4 separate regions of the Homo sapiens genome follow, and all the other regions are linked to region 3. The links come from fine-mapping of genetic effects on gene expression. A gene starts in region 3. Each other region holds a variant in brackets. All regions are shown on one strand. Distances are between the middles of the regions.

Region 1 (5,149 bases), 50 kb after region 3:
AGGAAAACAAAATGTGTGATGAAAATGGTCTGTGCTAACAAGGAAGAAAAGGTAAGGAAAAATCCAGCAAACTAAATAGTGCCTTGCAAAATGGACAGGGATGGCAGTATTTTGCAGGGGTGGAAAGGAGGGAGACCAAGCAGTTGAGCCTTCTGATTCAACTGGACAGGCCCACTTTGATCTGTCTTACCTGCATTTTGGGGTTCTTCATAATATTTCATCTAGAAGGAGGTTCCACTCCTTTTAAAAAATAAAGACGATGCCAGGCGTGGTGGCTCACACCTGTAATCCCAGCACGCTGGGAGGCCGAGGCAGGCATATCACCTGAGGTCAGGAGTTTGAGACTAGCCTGACCAACGTGGTGAAACCCTGTCTCTACTAAAAACACAAAAATTAGCCAGGCATGATGGTGCGTGCTTGTAATCCCAGCTACTCGGGAGGCTGAGGCAGGAGAATCACTTGAACCTGGGAGGCGGAGGTTGCAGTGAGCCAAGATCATGCTACTGCCCTCCAGCCTGGGAGACAAAGCGAGACTCCATCTCAAAGCAAAAAAAAAAAAAAAAAAAAAAAAAACAGGAGAGGCCAGGGCCAGGCGCTGTGGCTCACGCCTATAATCCTAACACTTTGGGAGGCCAAGGTAGGCGGATTGCCTGAGCTCAGGAGTTTGAGAGTAGCTTGGGCAGCATGGTGAAACCCCATCTCTACTAAAAATACAAAAATTGGCCGGGCATGGTGGTGCCATGAACATTCCTCAGTAGCCTATGATTTCTGGATATTGAATCATGAAGGCTCCTACTTAGTTATTTCTTCATGCCAGTTATCATTCATTCAGTTGATAAACATTATTTGTCATTCTTCTCAAGACTAAGAACTGCTATATAGAGAGGAATAATATGAAGAGCTGGCCATCACCAGAGGCTCTTTATAAGTTCAATTAAGATCACAATATCAGTCAGACACCGTGGCTCACCCCTGTAATCCCAGCACTTTGGGAGGCTGAGGTGGGTGGATCACTTGAGCCCAGGAGTTCAAGACCAGCCTGGCCAACATGGTGAAACCCTCTCTCTGCTAAAAATACAAAATTAGCCAGGCGTGGTGGTGCGCGCCTGTAATCCCAGCTACTCGGGAGGCTGAGGCAGGAGAATCACTTGAACCCGGGAGGTGGAGGTTGCAGCGAGCCGAGATCATGCCATTGCACTCCAGCCTGGGCAACAAGAGTGAAACTCCGTCTCAAAAAAAAAAAAAAAAGAAGAAAGAAAAGAAAATGTTTCTCTTCTTTTCCCAGGTGGTTGGGATCCATATGCAGGGACTTGGGTGTGATGAAATGCTGCAGGGTTTTGCTGTTGCAGTGAAGATGGGAGCAACGAAGGCAGACTTTGACAACACAGTCGCCATTCACCCTACCTCTTCAGAAGAGCTGGTCACACTTCGTTGAGAACCAGGAGACACGTGTGGCGGGCAGTGGGACCCATAGATCTTCTGAAATGAAACAAATAATCACATTGACTTACTGTTTGAGTTTTATGTATTTCTTTATTTTAATCAGGATCTTCTGATAGTGGAAATTTTTAGTACATAATAGAACTTATTTATGGAGTTAGAAATTTGTAGTGTTATCCAGGATTGATTTTCATTTGATCACATCTCACAGTAATTAATATTTTCAAGTTTTTTTTTTATTAACAGCTCTGTGCTAGTTTTTTTTTTCTGTTTTAGCCTCATCCCAAATATAAAGCTTTGTGAAGTACAATTAACTTAATGTACTTGAATGAATAGAACTTGCTACTTTTTTTTTTTTTTTTTTTGAGACAGAGTTTTGCTCTCATTGCCCAGGCTGGAGTGCGGTGGTGCTATTTCAGCTCACCACAACCTCTGCCTCCTGGGTTCAAGTGATTCTCCTGCCTTAGCCTCCCGAATAGCTGGAATTACAGGCACGCACCACCATGCCTGACTAATTTTGTATTTTTAGTAGACATGGGGTTTCTCCATGTTGGTCAGGCTGGTCTCAAACTCCCACCTTCAGGTGATCCGCCCACCTCGGCCTCCTGAGGTGCTGAGATTACAGGCGTGAGCCACTGTGCCAGCTTGCTAATTTTCACAGAAGTTGATGGCAATTCTTCACATGTAAACAGTGCCAGTGCACAGAACCTTTATATATTTTTTGAAGCCAGTACTGTGCTCTGCATATAACAAAGCTGCTTCAAGGATGAGACCTTTTTCTAAAAGCATGTAATGTGAGAAGCCGGCCTGCCTTATTTTCTTTTTTCTTTTTTAATGATTAAAAATAGTTTGTGGCAAGGCACGGTGGCTCAGGCCTGTAATTCTAGCACTTTGGGAGGCCGAGGCAGGAGGATTACTTGAGCCTACAAGTTTGAGGCCAGCATGCACAGCATAGCAAGACTGCATCTCTACAGAGAGTAAAAAAAATTACCCGAGTGTGGTGATGTGCATCTGTAATCTCAGCTACTTGGGAGGCTGAGGTGAGAGGATCACTTGAGCTTGGGTGAGGTGAGGCTGCAGTGAGTCCTGATCATGCTGCTGCACTCAATCTTGGACAACAGAGCAAGACCCTGTCTCAAAAAAAAAAAAAAAAAATATATATATATATATATATTATTTTTATGAGGTGAAGTGCATCAAACTTGGGAAAGATTTGAGGAGGCTGGGAACCTCCTGGAAAACCACTCCTTGAAGAAAGATATGAGAGACATTTAGAAGTGATTCCTGCTTTCAGAAGGAGGTGGATTCAAATACATCAAAAGTCCCTTCCTCTGCTAAGTGTTTATAGTTCAATGAATAATTTCAATATTT[G/T]TATGTGTTCTTGTCATTTTATTTTTTTCTGAAAAACTTCCAAAAATTTGAAAATAAAATTACAGCCTTTTCTTCTTATAAAATTTGTTACTGTGAGCTTTAATTGGTACACAGGAAATTGGTTTATTTTCTAAGGATATTTCACATTGGAGAATCAGTTGCCTGTGCTTACGGGGGTGAAAAGAGAGTTCTCGTATAAAAATAAAGATCGAAGGTATAAAAGAAACATTTAGCAGATTAATGATTGAGTTGGAAGAAAAGCCTAGAAATCACTTAGGTCTTTAACACTTTATTTCTATTAGGTTTTACCAGCTAGTTAAATTTTTCCAGGATTTTCATTAGTCATCCAGTGTTACTGAATACTTTTTTTTTTTTTTTTGAGACAGGGTCTAGCTTTGTCGCCAGGCTGGGGTGCAGTGGTGTGATCTCAGGTCACTGCAGCCTCCCGGGGTCAAGCAGTTCTCCTGCCTCAGCCTCCTGAGTAGCTGGGATCACAGGCACGCGCCACCACACCCAGCTAATTTTTGTATTTTTAGTAGAGATGGGGTTTCACCATGTTGGCCAGGATGGTCTTGATCTGTTGACCTCGTGATCTGCCCGCCTTGGCCTCCCAAAGTGCTGGGATTACAGGCGTGAGCCACTGCACTGGACCCACTGAATTCTTTACTGTGTGTTCTGTTAAGCTTTTACTGACTGTCTTTCTGGTTAGTGATGGCCAGTTACTGAACTGACTTTTTTTTTTTTTTTTGAAACCAAGCCTGGCTCTGTTGCCTAGGCTGGAGTACAGTGGCACGATCTCGGCTCACTGCAGCCTCTGCCTCCCGGGGTCAAGCGATTCTCCTGCCTCAGCCTCCTGAGTAGCTGAGACTACAGGTGCACACCACCACACCTGGCTAATTCTTGTACTTTTAGTAGAGATGGGTTTTCACCGTGTTGGCCAGGCTGGTCTTGAACTCCTGACCTTAGAAGTAATCTGCCCACCTCGGCCTCCCAAAGTGCTGAGATTACAGGCGTGAGCCACCACATCCGGCCTGCACTGACTTCTTAAGTAGGCCCAATGTCAATGAAAGAAAAATATTGTATTAGCAAGGAAGTTATATGTATTGTGGTGGGACAAGAAAATAGGATCCCCAAACTTGGGCATGGACTAATGTAGGCACTTCTCCCCTCTTCCCCTAGCCTAAAAGACAGTGGACCAAGGTTCTAGGCTTCATTCTGCTGGTGGATTTCTCACTGCACAGGCCCCAGCCTTGAGGTGTGCCTCTGTCAGGGAAATGGGAGGCCCTAGTAGCCACATCTATTTTAACATCATGTGTTCTTAATCTCATATTTATCCTGCCTGTGTGCTGGTTCCATAGTAAACCAACAAGAAAGTACAGTACCCTTATCTGAGTTCCTGTCTGCATTCTCATCGGTCCTTGAACTGGCCCAGCCCTTGAGGTGTTGTGGCTTAACAGCCTCTATTACTGAAAGTGCCAAGAAATATATAGCAGCTCACACCTATAATCCCAGCACTTTGGGAGGCCAAGACAGGTGGATCACCTGAGGTCAGGGGTTCGAGACCAGCCTGGCCAACATGATGAAACCCCATCTCTACTAAAAATACAAAAATTAGCTAGGCGTGGTGGCTGGCATCTGTAATCCCAGCTACTCAGGAGGCTGAGATAGGAGAATCGCTTGAACCTAGGAGGCACAGGTCACAGTGAGCCAAGATGGCACCACTGCACTCCAGCCCAGGCAATAGTGTGAGACTCCATCTCAAAAAAAAAAAAAAAAATGCTGGGCGCGGTGGCTCACACCTGCAATCCCAGCACTTTGGGAGGTCGAGGTGGGCAGATCACGAAGTCATGAGATCGAGACCATCCTGGCTAACATGGTGAAACCCTGTCTCTACTAAAAATACAAAAAAATTAGCCGGGCATGGTGGTGGGCGCCTGTAGTCCCAGCTACTTGGGAGACTGAGGCAGGAGAATGGTGTGAACCCAGGAGGCGGAGCTTGCAGTGAGCCAAGATCACACCACTGCACTCCAGCCTGGGTGACAGAGAGAGACTCCGTCTCAAAAAAAAAAAAAAAAAGATATACAAGGCAGCACGTTGTAAAATATGGGCCACATTGTACTTGCACAGTAGATGTTTATTGAAGGAAAGACATGTAACTTGCTTTCAAGTAATCTTATAATCTAGAATGAGAACATTTCTATACAAATAAAGCAATTAAGCACAGGATGACCATATGATTTATTGACTAAAATGGCACACTTTCAAGAGTGAAAGGGGTGTCCTTGACAATTTACACAATTGGTACAGATTAGTACTGTCCTAAACAAATAGGAGATTG
Region 2 (5,149 bases), 35 kb before region 3:
ACACACACACATATATATATATATAAAATTTTTTTTCCCGAAACATATAATGGCACAGAAATTTGAGACCAGCCTGGGTAAGATGGCGAAACCCAGTCTCTACAAAAAATACAAAAATTAGCCAGGCCTGGTGGTGCATGCCTGTAATCCCAGATACTCAGGAGGTGAGGTGCAAGGATCACCTGAGTCCGGGGAGGTTGAGGTTTCAGTGAGCTGTGATTGCACCACTGTGCTTCAGCCTTGGTGACAGAGTGAGAACCAATCTTACAAAAATAAATAAAAATAATGGTAAATTATCTGTCAGGAACACTGATCTTATTTACATTCACATTAACAAGTTATGATGGCCAGGCACAGTGGCTCACACCTGTAATCCCAGCACTTTGGAAGGATGAGGCAGGAGAATCATTTGAACCCAGGAGTTCAAGATTGGCCTGGTCAGCATAGTGAGACCTGTTCTATTTTTAAAAAAATAAAAAATATTAAAGGTTTTGTTTTGTTTTGTTTTTTGTGATGGAGTCTTGCTGTCTCCCAGACTGGAGTGCAGTGGCACGATCTTGGCTCACTGCAACCTCTGCCTCCTGGGTTCAAGCGATTCTCCTGCCTCAGCCTCCTGAGTAGCTGGGACTACAGGCACGCACCACCACGTCCGGCTAATTTTTGTATTTTTAGTAGAGACAAGGTTTCACCATGTTGGCCAGGATGGTCTTGATCTCTTGACCTCATGATCCGCTTGCCTCAGCCTCCCAAAGTGCTGGGATTACAGGCGTGAGCCATGGTACCCGGCCAAAAAACTATTAAAGTTTTAAGAATCCCTGTTTTCCCAACGCATTTGCCAAATCTGGGTACTATTTCTTTTTAATCTTTGACAGTCTAGTTAAGTAGAAAATACTGTTTCATTTTATTTGTACTTCATTGATTCTATGTGAGGCCAAACATTTTTTTCATATATTTATCTATCACTGAGTCTTCTTCGGGAAATCATGATATTCATGTGTTTCTTTCCCTGCCAGTCTACTGAGATGTTTATCTCTTCCTTGATTTAAGTTCCTTATAAAAAATAACTATCATACATAAATAGTAAAATGGGCTGGTCGTGGTGGGTCACGCCTGTAATCCCAACACTTGGGTAGGCCAAGGTGGGTGGATCACTTGAGCCCAGGAGTTTGAGACCAGCCTGGCCAACATGGCAAAACCCCATTTCTACTAAAAATAAAAAATTAGCCAGGAACGGTGGTGTGTGCCTGGTCCCAGCTACTCACAGGCATGAGCCACCGCACCTGGCCGGAATTTTTATGTAGTCAAATCCAGTATTTTCCATTACGGTTTATAGCATTCTTGTCATTGAAGGTTAAATACAACAAACAGGACAGAAAATTATTTACATATATTTTTAATGCACACATAATTATATGTTTAAATGTACTTAGAGACGGAAATATACCAAAATGTTAGTAACTGGTTTTGGCATGAGACTACAGATCAAATTTTTTTCTCGCTCTACTTTTCCATGTTTTCCAAATTATCACTAACAACCACAGTATTGTTTTTATTATTTAGTATTTTTGAGACAGGATCTTGCTCTGTCACCCAGGCTGGAGTGCAGTGGCATGATCTCGGCTCATTGCAACCTCTGCCTCCCAGGTTCAAGTGATTCTCCCACCTCAGCCTCCCGAGTAGGTGGGATTACAGGCATCCGCCACCATGCCCGGCTAATTTTCTTATTTTTAGTAGAGATGGGGTTTAACCATGTTGGCCAGGCTGGCCTCGAACTCCTGACCTCAAGTGATCTGCCCGCCTTGGCCTCCCAAAGTGTTGGGATTACAGACATGAGCCACTGCACCCAGCCCACAGTATTGTTTTTAAAAGAAAAAAAAAAGTCTAAAGTTAATAGTGGCTACTTCCTAAGGATTTAAAAGCATCTTGCCCATCAAATTATGATAATGTAATGAAAGCAAACAACAAAGGAAAAATACACCAAAGGGAAAGAATGAGTAAAATGTGAATGCAGAGATCACAATTCAGAGACATCCGGCAGGCATGCCTAGTTAGCCAAATTTCTGCAACGTGGAGTACCTGGAAATGTCCTTTATCCATACCTGATGGGAGATGCAGATGACAGTGTGATCACACCTTCCCCCACGGCATGTGAATAAACTACTGCCATATTCAACAAAGATATTTCTCAAAATGTGAATTCCTTCACTTACCTGTGAGCTGTAGGACTTCAAAAACCTTCTCCTCAGGACATTCCCACTGGGACATCGGAGAGCAACAGTAACTACCTAAGGAAGAAATATTCACATAAGAACTCCGATCCATTGCTCTTTGCAATTCCTTTCATTCCATAAAACAGCTAAGCAGCTAAAAAGGACTTAGATACTGCTTTGCTAATTATTAAAAGACATAGGTAGGGCATGGTGGTGGCTCACGCCTGTAATCCCAGGACTTTGGGAGGCTGAGACAGGCAGACCACTTGAGGCCAGGAGTTTGAGACACCCCCCGCCATAAAAAATAGAAAAATTAGCTAGATGTGGGTGCACGCCTCTAGTCCCAGCTACTTGGGAGGTTGAAGTGGGAGAATAGCCTGAGCCCAGGGAATCTGAGGCAACAGTAAGCTGTGATCACGCCACTGCACCCAGCCTGGATGACACAGCAAGACTCTGTTTAAAAAAAAAAAAGACATTATAAAATGAGAAGATAACACATTAGTGTTTATTTTTCACCTGTCAAGAAACCCTTTATGACTAACATGATCATTAACTGTGCTGGGAGTTATGTGGG[T/C]ATCATATTAGGCATAAGTGGTGGTTTTAGAGCAGCACCCCTCCCTCTCAGGAAAGCTATGTTAGAAAATATTTCCAATCAGGCCAGGTGCGGTGGCTCAGGCCTGTAATCCCAGCACTTTGGGGGGCCAAGGTGGGCGGATCACTTGAGGTCAGGAGTTCGTGACCAGCCTGGCCAACACGGTGAAACCCCATCTCTACTAAAAATACAAATATTAGCCAGGCATTGTGGCGTACACCTGTGGTCTTAGCTACTCAGGAGGCTGAGGCAGGAGAATGGCTTGAACCCGGAAGCAGAGGTTTCAGAGAGCCGAGATTGTGCCATTGCACTCCAGCTTGAGCAATGCGGTGAGACTCAGTCTCAAAAACAAAAACAAAAACAAAAACAAAAAACTTTCCCATCAGGCACAGTGACTCACACCTATAATCCCACCACTTGGGGAGGCCAAGGTGAGAGGATCACTTGAGACCAGGAGTCGGACCAGCCTGAGCAAAACACTGAGACCCAATCTTTACCAAAAAAAATTTTTTTTTAATTTAAAAATTAGTCAGGGCTGGTGGCACATGCCTGCAGTCCTAGTTACTTGGGACGCTAAGGTAGGAGGATCACTTGAGCCTGAGAGGTTGAAGATGCAGTCAGCTATGATCGTGCCAAGACACTCCAGCCTATGAGACAGAGCAAAAGCCTGTCTCTTTAAAAAAAAAAAAAAAAAGGTTTCCAAGGAGTATAACTGTTGCCGAGCCCCAAGAAGTAGGTTCTCCTTCTGGATTTATTGCCCAAATGACTTAATGGCTTTCAAGACACGTATGTGCTCCCCATACATTAGGAAGTGTCTATAAGTTGGGTGGCCAGTGACAGGAAGGCATCACGGACTATGACCCAGCAACTGGGAAGAAGACAGCTTGACACAGTTGGGGATCAGTCCCAGCCCAGCCCCCAACAGCAAACCACCCCTAAATTAAAACATCTACAAAGTAGTCGCCCTCTTCATTTTCTCCTTTGAAAAGGAGAACTGCAATTTGAAGTCATTTGCCTAGTTTTTTTTCCTTTTTTTTTTCCTTTTTGTAGCGACAGCGTCTCACTATGTTGCCCAGGCTGGTCTTGAATTCCTAAGCTGAAGTAATCCTCCCCTCTTGGCCTCCCAAAGTGCTCGGACATATGCCTATTTTGATTCTGTTTTAGTAAGCAACGCATTTTCTGACCTAAAGTTCTGGAAAAGCCCACGTGTCCTATGCCTGAGGCAGTGGGTGGGTGTAATCCCAGCGCTTTGGGAGGTCAAGACAGGCAGATCACTTGAGGTCAGGAGTTCCAGGCCAGCCTGGCCAACATGGTAAAACCCCGTCTCTACTAAAAATACAAAAACTAGCCCGATGTGGTGGCAGATGCCTGTAATCCCAGCTACTTGGGAGGCTGAGGCAGGAGAATCACTTGAACTCAGGAGGCGGACGCTGCAGTGAGCTGAGATCATGCCATTGCACTCTAGCCTGGGTGACAAGAGCAAGACTTCATCTCAAAAAAAAAAAAAGACAACTCAGCAGACAGCAGGCTTGCAAAATAGTACTCATGTTGAGGAATTTGATACTACACTACATTCCAAGTAAGACCCAGCTACCCAGGAGGCTGAGGCGGGTGGATCACTTGAGCCCAGGAGTTCAAGGCCAGCCTAGGCAACATAGTGAGACCCTGTCTCTATGTTCTAAAAAAGACCTAGTTACAGTATAATCACATGAACACTTATGCTATCACTTCTTTCTAAACCCAAGTTTAGATAAGACATATTTAATGGATGTTAAGCAAAGAAAATAGAAAATAAGTTTAATTTTCGAAGAGAAAAATAGACTTACTTCTTCTGCTGTTTGAGAAGGTTCTTCAGGTAAATCAGGAATCTAAAGAAAAGTATTGGTAAGAGGAATGTAAACATGTTCAACAAGCAAAAGTGTCAATGAGAAGAGTTCCTCTCAATACAGAGTTTAGACACACATCTAAGCTTACTTATATCTTTTCTTCATACATCTATAAAGAGTTTATAATGAAAATAGTTCAATTAATAAACATTTTTGGGCAAGTGTGCTAAAAATTAATCATAAAAATAGGATTTGAGATAATAGCTCCCAATCTATACATACTTAAAGGATTTTGCTTCTATTATGTTCCAAAATATTACTAATATATAAAAATGCACTATGTAAAAAAGCAAGCCAGATGCAGTGGCTCATGTCCGTAATCCCAGCAACTCAGGAGGCTGAGGCAGGAAGATCACTTGAGCTCAGAAGTTCAAGGCCAACCATTGCAACAAAGCAAGACCCTGTCACTTTAAAAAAAAAAAAAAATATATATATATATATATATATATGATTGTGTATGC
Region 3 (5,149 bases):
TTAGCCTTTGCATATCCTCTCTTTCATTTGGGTCCCACTGGGGGTCGGTTCCCGGTAACTGGGTCCTTACATACTCTTGGGGGTTTTGGTAATCAGCCGGTGCATGTTCCCCTAGCCACTTAGTTGCTGCTTGGAGCACTCTCCGCCTTTCATCTGTGTTAAAGAGGAACATGAGCAACTGGTGGCAATCAGCCCAAGTGGGGTTATGGGTCTGGATAATAGTTTGGAGCAAATCAATTAGAGCTTGTGGCTTTTCAGTACAGGACGGGGTATTGTTTTTCCAGTTGAGAAGGTCGGCAGAGGTGAAGGGCTGGCACACAAAAACACGCCTCTCCGCCATGTGCCCATCCTCATCTATTCCAGTATACCGCTGCTCTCTCAAGGGCATTTGTATCCCCGTTTTGGGTCTTAAACGAGCTGCCAAGGGAGGGGTTTCTCCTGAGGCTTCACCTCCTCTCTTGTCTACTCTGGGTGGCCTAGGGATATGTTTGTCTTGCGGAGGCACAAGCACTGTGGACTCAAAAGTGGGGAGCCTCTCTCCCTGGTAAGGGGAGGGCACCACTGGGATGACTTTTGCCATCTCCTGCAATGGATCGTCTGATGTTGGGTCGAACAGAACTTCAGGAGTTGATTTCCCTCGGTGGGTGGAGCGGGATCCTTCCTTGACTATCTGTCCCTTTGCTACTAGCACTGCTGCTGCCTGCCCTCTTACCCACTGTGGTAACCAAGTGTCTATGTATGGAAACTGGTCTGAGTGTCCTGACTTACCAGTTACCTTGTGCCATACCTTAGAAACAAGGGACCTGTCCAGGCTTCCTTCTGATGGCCAACCCACTTCTAATGTTGGCCAATCTATTTCACACAAAGTTCTAAGTTTCCCTGGTGTCATAGTAACCCCATAGTCGCCATTAAATCCCTTCTTAAAATTTTTCAACATAGTTCCTAGAGGAGTAGGCTTATTTTGTGTCTGACCCGTGTTTCCTCAAGACAAAACACCAAGCTCACACCAAACGCACACCACAAAACAAAGAATGGGTAAAAAGGGCACACACGCACTTTTTCAGTTTTCACCAAACCAGAATCAAAACCAAAATCAGAGTATCCAGTAATCCAAGCCAGGTCAAACCAAAACCAAAGTGTCAAGCAATTCAAGTCAAGTCAAAAACAAAAACCAAAGTGCCAGTACAGGCACGCCGTGGGTGATCAGGCCATGCTTCCACTCAAATGGAGTGGGCAAGTTCCGAAGACCAGTCTTACCAAGTTTCAAATGTCCGGACTCCAAGTGCCTGTTCCTTCCCGGTGTTCAGCCACTGCGTTGATACTCCACGGGGGCCTGCCACGCACTGCTCTGACTAGGCGTTCCACCGGGGCAATTGCCTACCCAGGAGCGCTCGCAGGATCCGCGTCGCTCAAGCTGGCGGGAGTTCCCCGCAGGGATGCTCCACAGGGCAGGCCTAAGCCCCCTAAGGGGCTGCCTCGACTGTCCGTCAATTACCTCGCTTCCCAGTCAGGGAACCAAGAAATATAGCAGGATGAGTCACAGACAAAACTCCTCAGACACCAGATTAAAGCAGGAAGAGGTTTTTTATTCGGCCAGGAGCGTTGGCAGACTCGCGTCTTGAGAGCCGAGCTCTCCGAAAAAGAAATTCCTAGCCCTTTTAAGGGCTTACAACTCTAAGGGGTCTACGTGAAAAAATCATAATAGATCAAGTAAGCGTGGGAAACGTGACTGGGGGCTATATACATCAGCTAACAGAACAAAAAGTTTTACAGTGCTTTCTCATACAATGTCTGGAATTTACAGATAACACCAATAGTTTTGGTCAGGGGTTAATAATATTATTATTATCTTAGCCACCAGGGCCAGGTGGTGGTGCCAAGGTCGTCTAGCTATTTATCTTACTTCTGTTTCTTTCCAACTTTTTGCTTTCTCCCTTTTCTCCTGTCTTATAAACTAGGGAAAAGGGGAGGTTGGGGAGAAACTGAGAAGGACAACAGGAGAAGTGGTGACCTCATACCATAATCCTAGCATTTTGGGAGGCCGAGGTGAGAGAATCGCTTGAGGCCAAGAGTTCCCTACCAGTCCTGGTAACATAGTGAGACCCTATTTCTAAAAAAAAAATAAAAATAATAAAAAAAATAAAAAAAAAAATTAAATAAATAAATAAATAAATTAGCTGGGCGCTGTGGCGGGCACCTGTAGTTCCCAGCTACCGGGAAGGCTGAGGAGGGAGGATCGCTGCTTGAGCACAGTAGGTGGAGGCTGCAGTGAGCAGAGATCGCATCACTGCACCCCTGCCTGGGGGAGAGTGAGACCCAGTCTCAAAGAAAAAGCAAGAACAAACAAAAGTGGTCTCTGGAACAAACCTGGACAAACAACCCTTCGAATAGAGGCAAATTTCTCTTCCTGGAGAAGCCGTGCCACTGGCAACTCCCCAGGGGGCCAGCTCGGGAAAAGCCAGCTGAAACGAGAGGACGTTCACCGTTCCTCGCCTCGATCCACCGGACTTCAGAAGGCTACACGCGGCAGGCGCCGCTCGGGATCCAGGGGCCGGGGTGAGAACGGAGGCGGAGAAACCCCTCAGGCTCCGCCACCGGGGCGGGGAACTGGGAGGCGGCCCCGCCTCTGGGCATCCTCCTGGGTCTTGCCTAGCGGCGGGCGCATGCTTAGTCACCGTGAGGCTGCGCTTGCCCGGGGCCCGCGCCCCCCTACCCCGGGGACCGCCCCCGGGCCGCCCGCCCCACTTGGCGCGCCACTTCCGCGTGCATGGCCCTGCTGCCCCGAGCCCTGAGCGCCGGCGCGGGACCGAGCTGGCGGCGGGCGGCGCGCGCCTTCCGAGGCTTCCTGCTGCTTCTGCCCGAGCCCGCGGCCCTCACGCGCGCCCTCTCCCGTGCCATGGCCTGCAGGCAGGAGCCGCAGCCGCAGGGCCCGCCGCCCGCTGCTGGCGCCGTGGCCTCCTATGACTACCTGGTGATCGGGGGCGGCTCGGGCGGGCTGGCCAGCGCGCGCAGGGCGGCCGAGCTGGGTGCCAGGGCCGCCGTGGTGGAGAGCCACAAGCTGGGTGGCACTTGCGTGAGTACCGCCGGTTTGTTCGGGCGGGGGGCGCCTCTTTGTCTCGGTCTTTCGGGGGACAGCCTGTGCTCGTTCCTATGGCGATCCTGTCCCCCGGCGCTGGGCTTTCCTCTTTTCCACCCCCGCAACTCCCCATTCCGAAGCCAGGAACCCAGCAGGTGGAGGAGAGAGAGGCGTCCGGGGGCTTCTCTGCGGCCCGCAAAGCCGAGCCAGCGTCTGCTTCCGCACGGATGCGATATTGACCAGGGCCGGGGCGGGTTAGATTAACCTTCCTCCATCCTCACTTGTCCAAGTGGGAGAGGATTGGATTCTGTTCTTGACCGCGTGAAACACAAAACTGCATCTGGGAACATTGCTGGTGGCCTGTGTGTAGGGACGAGGGTGACGGTGCCATAGATCCTGGTTCTTGAAAAATGTAGATCCTGGTTCTCCCGTTTCAAGGGCAGAATGATTTATAGCGGTTGTTGTCAACCTTGGCTACACATTCGAATCACCTGAGGGTGCCTGGATTCCCGACTTAATTGGTCTGAGGTGCACTTGGGCTTTGGGATGTTTCCCGACTTAATTGGTCTGAAGTGCAGCCTGGGCTTTGGGATTTTCGGGTGATCTGAATTGCAGCCAAGGCGACCTTGAGTAGGTGAGTTCTCAGAGCTTTTGTTTTGTCTTGGTTTTATGTGGATTGCAAAACTAAAAACAGAGGGATGTAAATCCTGAGATTTACAAAATTCATAATTTTTGAAAATAAGGGTTTTTGTTTGTGTTTGTTTTTTGAGACAGGGTCTTGCCCTGTCACCTAGGCTAGAGTGCAGTGGCCATCATAGCTCACTGCAGCCTCGAACTCCCGGGCTCAAGGGATCCTCTCACCTTGGCCTCCTGAGTAGCTGGAACTACAGGGGGCTAATCACCACGCCTAGTTAATTATTATTATTTTTTGTAGAGATGGGGGTCTCGCTATGTTGCCCTTGCTGATTTCAACCTCTTGGACTCAACCGATCTTCCCGCCTCAGCCTCCCAAAGTGCTGGGATTACAAGCCTGAGCCACTGCACTCATTCTAAAAATAAATGTTGTTTCCAAGTTATTGGTGTGCCCGCCCTTTTCTATCACAAGATTTGGGTGTTGACGATTAAAATGCTGTATCCAAGAGGAACCTGGGATTTGGGATAGGTTCTCTAAATTCCTTTGGAGATGAATATTTAAATTATGTCAAATTGGGAGCTCTTTAAGGACAGGGATGGGCTTCTGTGTTTGTGTGTCTCTTATCACCTTAAAATCCCTTGCTCAATAAGCACTTGTGCAATGAATGAAACTAAAAATGGACAGTTATGAAAAGGTTGACTTCATTGTTCAGTGCCTTGGAGATGAACATGGAGATGAAGAGAAAGGAAAAATCTCTGTTAATTATCAACTTGCACTTTGACACCATAGTCCAGACAGAAGGTTAGAAATCTGTCTCTCCAGAAGGCAGATTGTGGGGTGCCACTAAGTGCCCCCCTCCCACACCTCATGAGAGTACTTGATCACTTCTCACTTCTGTTCTGCTCTCCACATTTTCTCTGTCTTCCTCTTTCTCTACTTATGTTATAATGTGCTTCAGAGGTTCACCCACTTTACCTTCCTGTTATGAATTCTTTTTTTTTTTTTTTTTTTGAGAGGGAGTCTCACTCTGTCACCCAGGCTGGAGTACAGTGGTGCAATCTGGGCTCACTGCAACCTCTGCCTCCCAGGTTCAAGCAGTTCTCCCGTCTCAGCCTCTCGAGTAGCTGGGAATGCAGGTGCATGCCACCATGCCCGGCTAGTTTTTGTACTTTTAATAGAGATGGGGTTTTGCCATGTTGGCCAGGCTGGTCTCAAACTCCTGACCTCTGGTAATCCACCCACCTTGGCCTCCCAAAGTGCTTGGATTACAAGCATGAGCCACCACACCCAGCTAATTTTTTATTTTTAAAATGTATTTATCTATTTTTTTTTCGATATGGAGTCTTGCTCTGTCACCCAGGCTGGAGTGCAGTGGTGCAATCTCGGCTCACTGCAACCTCCGCCTCCTGGGTTCAAGCAACTCTCCTGCCTCGGCCTCC
Region 4 (5,149 bases), 32 kb after region 3:
GAGTTCTAAGAAAACCATACAATCTTTTTTGGTTTGCTATCAGGTCGCAGAAATGTGTTAGAGAACAGCCTTCCTTCCCTGTGATCCACCCTGCATTGTTTGATTTTAGGGTTGAGTGACATGACATATGTGAGGATGTAGTGAGACATACAGTCATGACTCATTATGTTTGGATAATGTAATTTCATTCCGGACTCACCCTCAAAGAAGTTTCATTATAAATAGCTGTTCATTAGCAATTTTAAATATTTACATTTATGCATGTCATCAACAAAAGGCTCTGAAACACAAGAAAATGAATTTACGATTGATACGTGATTCTTCAAGTCTACTTTATCTTTGTTACGGTGTTGGTGAATAAGTAATAACTGGGCAAGTACATAAATAATGTAGGGAAGATAGCATGATTTAGTTTTTGCACTGAGGGGGCTTCTGTTTGGATGGAGCATGAACCTTGTGGAATACTGTGCATGAGTAGTCCTGGGGCTGCAACGAGGTAAAGAGAAATCTTTTAGGGATTCAGCCGCCTGAAAGATCAGTTCCAGAAGCCAGGCACAGTGGCTTATGCCTGTAATCTCAGCACTTTGGGAGGCCTGAGGCGAGCGAATTTCTTGAGCCCAGGAGTTTGAAACCAGCCTAGGCAACACAGCACAACCCGATCTCTGCAAAAAAAATACAAAAATTAGCTGGGTGTGTTGGCACATGCTGGTAGTCTTGGCTACTTGGGAGGCTCAGGCCGGAGGATCACTTGAGCCTAGGAGTTCGAGACCAGCCTGGGCAACATAGGGAGATATTGTCTCTGCACAGAGTTTTTTCCTCTCTGAAGAAATGAGGCTAAAGAGCTTTAAAAACAATGAAAAATACATTTCCCTTCTGTGACGGGATATTAGGGATTTTTCTTTTCTTTTGAGATAGGGTCTTTTGCTCTGTCACCCAGGCTGGACTGCAGTGGTATAGTCATAGCTCACTGCAGCCTCCACCTCCCAGACACAAGTTATCCTCCTGCCTCAGCCTCTCAAGTAACTGGGACCACAGACATGGACCATCATACTTGGATAATTTTTATTTTTACTTTTAGGGGTTTTTTGTTTGTTTGTTTGTTTGTTTGTTTGTTTTGTTTTTTTGAGACAGAGTCTCGCTCTGTTTCCCAGGCTGGAGTGCATTGGTGCAATCTTGGCTTACTGCATCCTCTGCCTCCTAAGGGCAAGCGATTCTCCTGCCTCAGCCTCCCGAGTAGCTGGGATTACAGGCACACACCACTGCACCTGGCTAACTTTTTGTATTTTTAGTAGAGACGGGGTTCACCATGTTGGCCAGATTGGTCTCGAACTCCTGACCAGGTGATCCACCCACCTCAGCCTCCCAAAGTGCTAGGATTATGGGCATGAGCCACCGTGCCTGGCCTTACTTTTATGTTTTTGTAGAGATGGGGTCTCACTTTATTGCCCAGGCTCAAAGGAATATTTTCTACTTAAAGTTGCAGTGGTATCCAGGATTGGATCTTGGAACAGAAAAAAAAAAAGATTAATAGAAAAACTGGGCTAGGCAAGGTAGCTTACACCTGTAATGCCGGCACTTTGGGAGGCCAAGGTAAGAGCATTGCTTGAGCCCAGGAGCTAAGACTAGCCTGGGCTAACATGGTGAGACTCTGTCTCTACAAAAGAAAATATAAAACTTAGCTGGGTGTGGCGATGAATGTCTGTAGTCCCAGCTACTCAGGAGGCTGAGGCTGGAGGATGGCTTGAGTCCTGGAGGTTGAGGCTGCAGTGAGCCGTGTTCACACCACTACACTCCAGCCTGGGTGACAGAGACCCTGTCTCAAAAAAAAGGGAAAAAGTGAAAATCTGCAGTCTAGGGTTTAGTCATTAGTAATGTACCAATGTCAATTTCTTATTTTGACAAAGGTATCCTAATTAAGTAAAATATTAACTTTAGGGAAAACTGATCAAGGGGTATAATAAGGGAAATCTCTGTACTATCTCTGCAACTTTTCTGTAAACGTGAAATTATTCCAAAATTAGTTTATTTAAGAATACTAACCCTCTGCTCGCGTCTCAGCCGCAGCGTCATTGTTGGTGCAGGTTACATTGCTGTGGAGATGGCAGGGATCCTGTCAGCCCTGGGTTCTAAGACATCACTGATGATACGGCATGATAAGGTAAATGCCACCTTTTTCTTTTCGCTTTTCTTGATGTTAATTTAAAAAATGAAGAATTTTTTCTTATGTTGTCGTTAAATACTAGGGTGCAAAGCAGGTGTGGGGGTCATTTGGTTGGTTTCATATGGTGCTGTATCCAAGTTACCTGAATTTGGCCTATATCCCTCCCAGTTGCTGGTTGATGATGATAATTTTGAGTTGGTCAAATTGGCTGGTAATTTCATCACTAAGTGGTAGATAGTCATGAGATGCCCTCATAGGGAGACGTGGGGCCTAAACATAACTATTAGCTAAATTAAACAGACTGTTAGGTTAATTTATTTTTTTATTTTTATTTTTTGAGACAGAGTCTCACTCTTTTGTCCAGGCTGGAGTGCAGTGGCACCATCTCGGCTCACTGCAACCTCTGCCTCCTGGGCTCAAGCGAGTCTCATGCCTCAGCCTCCCAAGTAGCTGGGATTACAGG[T/C]ATCCACCACCATGCCCAACTAATTTTTGTATTTTTAGTAGAGATGGGGTTTCACCATGTTGGCCAGGCTGGTCTCGAACTCCCTACCTCAGGTGATCCACCCACCTCGACCTCCCAAAGTGCTGGGATTACAGGTGTGAGCCACCAAGCCCCGCCAGGTTAATTTATTAATTTCTGGAAATCAATTTTATATGATCAAGTAATGTTAGATTGTTACCACTCATTCTAAACAATTTACTAAATTCTTTGCATTAAAGCAGGGGTGTCCAATCTTTTGGCTTCCCTGAGCCACACTGGAAGGAGTAGAATTGTCTTGGACTACACATAAAATACACTAACACAAACAATAGCTGATGAGCTAATAAAAAAATAAATTGCAGACTGGGCACAGTGGCTCACGCCTCTAATTCCCAGCACTTTGGGAGGCTGAGGCGGGCGGATCACTTGAGGTCAGGAGTTGGAGACCAGCCTGGCCAACATGGTGAAACCCCATCTCTACTAAAAATCCAAAAATTATCCAGGCATGGTGGCAGGCAACTAATCACAGCTACACGGGAGGCTGAGGCATAAGAATCGCCTGAACCCAAGAGGCAGAGGTTGCAGAGAGCCAAGATTGCACCACTGCACTCCAGCCTGGGCAACAGAGCAAGACTCTGTCTCAAAACAAAAAACAAAACAAAACAAAAAAACTGCAAAAAAATCTCATAGCATTTTAAGAAAGTGTACAAATTTGTGTTGGGCCACATTCAAAGTCATCCTGGTCCGCACACGGCCTGCAGGCTGCAGGTCGAACGAGCTTACATTAAAGGGAATCTTGTAGATCATACACTTGAAATTTTTTTTTTTTTTAAGAGACAGAGTCTTGCTATGTTACCCAGTCTGCAGTACAGTGGCATGATCATAGCTCACTGCAGCCTTCTGAGCTCATAGGATTTTCCTGCCTCAGCCTTCCAAGTAGCTGAGGCTACAGGTGTGGGCCACCATGCCCTGACTAATTTTTTTTTTTTTTTTTTTTTGAGACAGAGTCTCACTGTGTTGCCCAGGCTAGAGTGCGGTGGCACATCATGGCTCATTGCAGCCTCAACCTTCTGGGCTCAAGCGATCTTCCCACCCCAGCCTCCCAAATAGCCAGGACTACAGGAACATGCCACCACACCCAGTGAGGTTTCACCATGTTGCCCAGGCTGGTCTCAAACTCCTGAGCTCAAGTGATCCGCCCACCTCGGCCTCCCAAAGTGCTTGGGATTACAGGCATGCGCCACCTGACTACTTTTTATATATTTTTAGAGATGAGGTCTTACTATGTTGCCCAGGCTGGTCTCGAACTCCTGGCCTCAAGCTATCCTCCTGCCTCAGCCTCCCAAGTAGCAGGTGGAGTTCAAGACCAACCTGGGCAACATAGTGAGACCCCCATCTCTACTACAAAAAATTAAAAAATTAGCAAGGTGTAGTGGTATACGCCTGTAGTTGCAGCTACTTGGGAGGCTGAGGTAGGAGAATCACTTGAATCCAGGAGGTCAAGGCTGCAGTGAGCAAAGATTGTGCCACTGCACTCTAGCCTGGGCAGCTGACTGTCCCTAACAAACTTGTGACTTAGGCAAGCCACATAATGCCTTTGGGGCCTAGTTCTGCAGGGACAGAATTTATCAGATCCCTGACTACCAAGATGCTATGATTCTAATTCTTATGTGAGCAGATGGAGGGAGACAGGGATTCTGAGAATCCTAGGCAGTATGTACTTTAAGGAACTTTCTCTGTGGCTTTGAAACTGGTTATATAATTAGCTCCAGGAGATTGAGGTCCTGAATAATATTTTTTCATAGGTAAGTATTATTTTGCTAGAATATATCCAGCAAATTAGAAGGATGGGGAAAGGTAGAGGAGTTCCTAGCTTGAATTTATATATAGATAAGTAAATAAACTGCAGCAGTCTGTCAATAAAGGGGGTAATTCTTGCATCTGTAAAATTGGCTACTTTGCAGAGAGCCACATCTACTTGGGCTTCCTGCCCTCTCCCATCCCAAATGCACCAAGTTCATTCTCCCTTTTTTTCCCAGTGTTAACTCCATTTTAGAGCTACTCTGTGGGTGGGCATGGTGGCTCACACCTATAATCCCAGCACTTTGGGAGGCCTAGGTGGGCGGATCACCTGAGGTCAGGAGTTCGAGGCCAGCCTGGCCGACATGGCGAAACCCCGTCTCTACTAAAAATAGAAAAGTTAGCCAGGCATGGTGGTGGGCGCCTGTAATCCCAGCTCCTCGGGAGGATGAGGCGGGAGAATTGCTTGAATCCAGGAGGCGGAGGTTGCAGTGGGCTGAGATGGTACCACTGCACTCCAGCCTGGGTGGTAGAGCAAGACTCCCTCTCAAAAAAATAAAAATAAAAGAACTACTCTGTGAATAACTCATGACCTCCCACCTGAACTCCACATGTGGATGGTCACAGATATATCTCCAAGGCCATACTGTTGAGATTTATGGCTAGACAAGATTTTGCTAGTAAATCTTCCCTTCAATCATATCAGA

What was found. PIP is the estimated chance that this variant, and not a neighbour inherited with it, causes the effect.
Region 1: its variant is fine-mapped to the expression of GSR in whole blood (TOPMed, PIP above 0.99).
Region 2: its variant is fine-mapped to the expression of GSR in whole blood (TOPMed, PIP 0.98).
Region 4: its variant is fine-mapped to the expression of GSR in whole blood (TOPMed, PIP above 0.99).

Annotation. Positions count from the first base shown.
Region 1 is chr8:30,675,806-30,680,954 of GRCh38, reverse strand. It overlaps GSR (glutathione-disulfide reductase), which reads left to right. Exons shown (of 13, transcript NM_000637.5): 12 at 1-51; 13 at 1,286-2,889. The coding sequence ends at 1,435. Among named protein-coding and RNA genes, the nearest start is that of GTF2E2, 20 kb to the right of the region's middle. The variant G/T (reference allele first, on the strand shown) is at 2,812.
Region 2 is chr8:30,760,409-30,765,557 of GRCh38, reverse strand. It overlaps UBXN8 (UBX domain protein 8), which reads right to left. Exons shown (of 8, transcript NM_005671.4): 6 at 4,629-4,670; 7 at 2,211-2,285. Among named protein-coding and RNA genes, the nearest start is that of UBXN8, 19 kb to the right of the region's middle. The variant T/C (reference allele first, on the strand shown) is at 2,785.
Region 3 is chr8:30,725,454-30,730,602 of GRCh38, reverse strand. It overlaps GSR (glutathione-disulfide reductase), which reads left to right and starts at 2,757. Exons shown (of 13, transcript NM_000637.5): 1 at 2,757-3,073. The coding sequence starts at 2,768. It also overlaps a transcript of UBXN8 not described here. RefSeq lists enhancers at 885-1,409, 3,172-3,859 and silencers at 2,497-2,586, 2,657-3,096.
Region 4 is chr8:30,693,389-30,698,537 of GRCh38, reverse strand. It overlaps GSR (glutathione-disulfide reductase), which reads left to right. Exons shown (of 13, transcript NM_000637.5): 7 at 2,059-2,158. Among named protein-coding and RNA genes, the nearest start is that of GSR, 32 kb to the left of the region's middle. The variant T/C (reference allele first, on the strand shown) is at 2,625.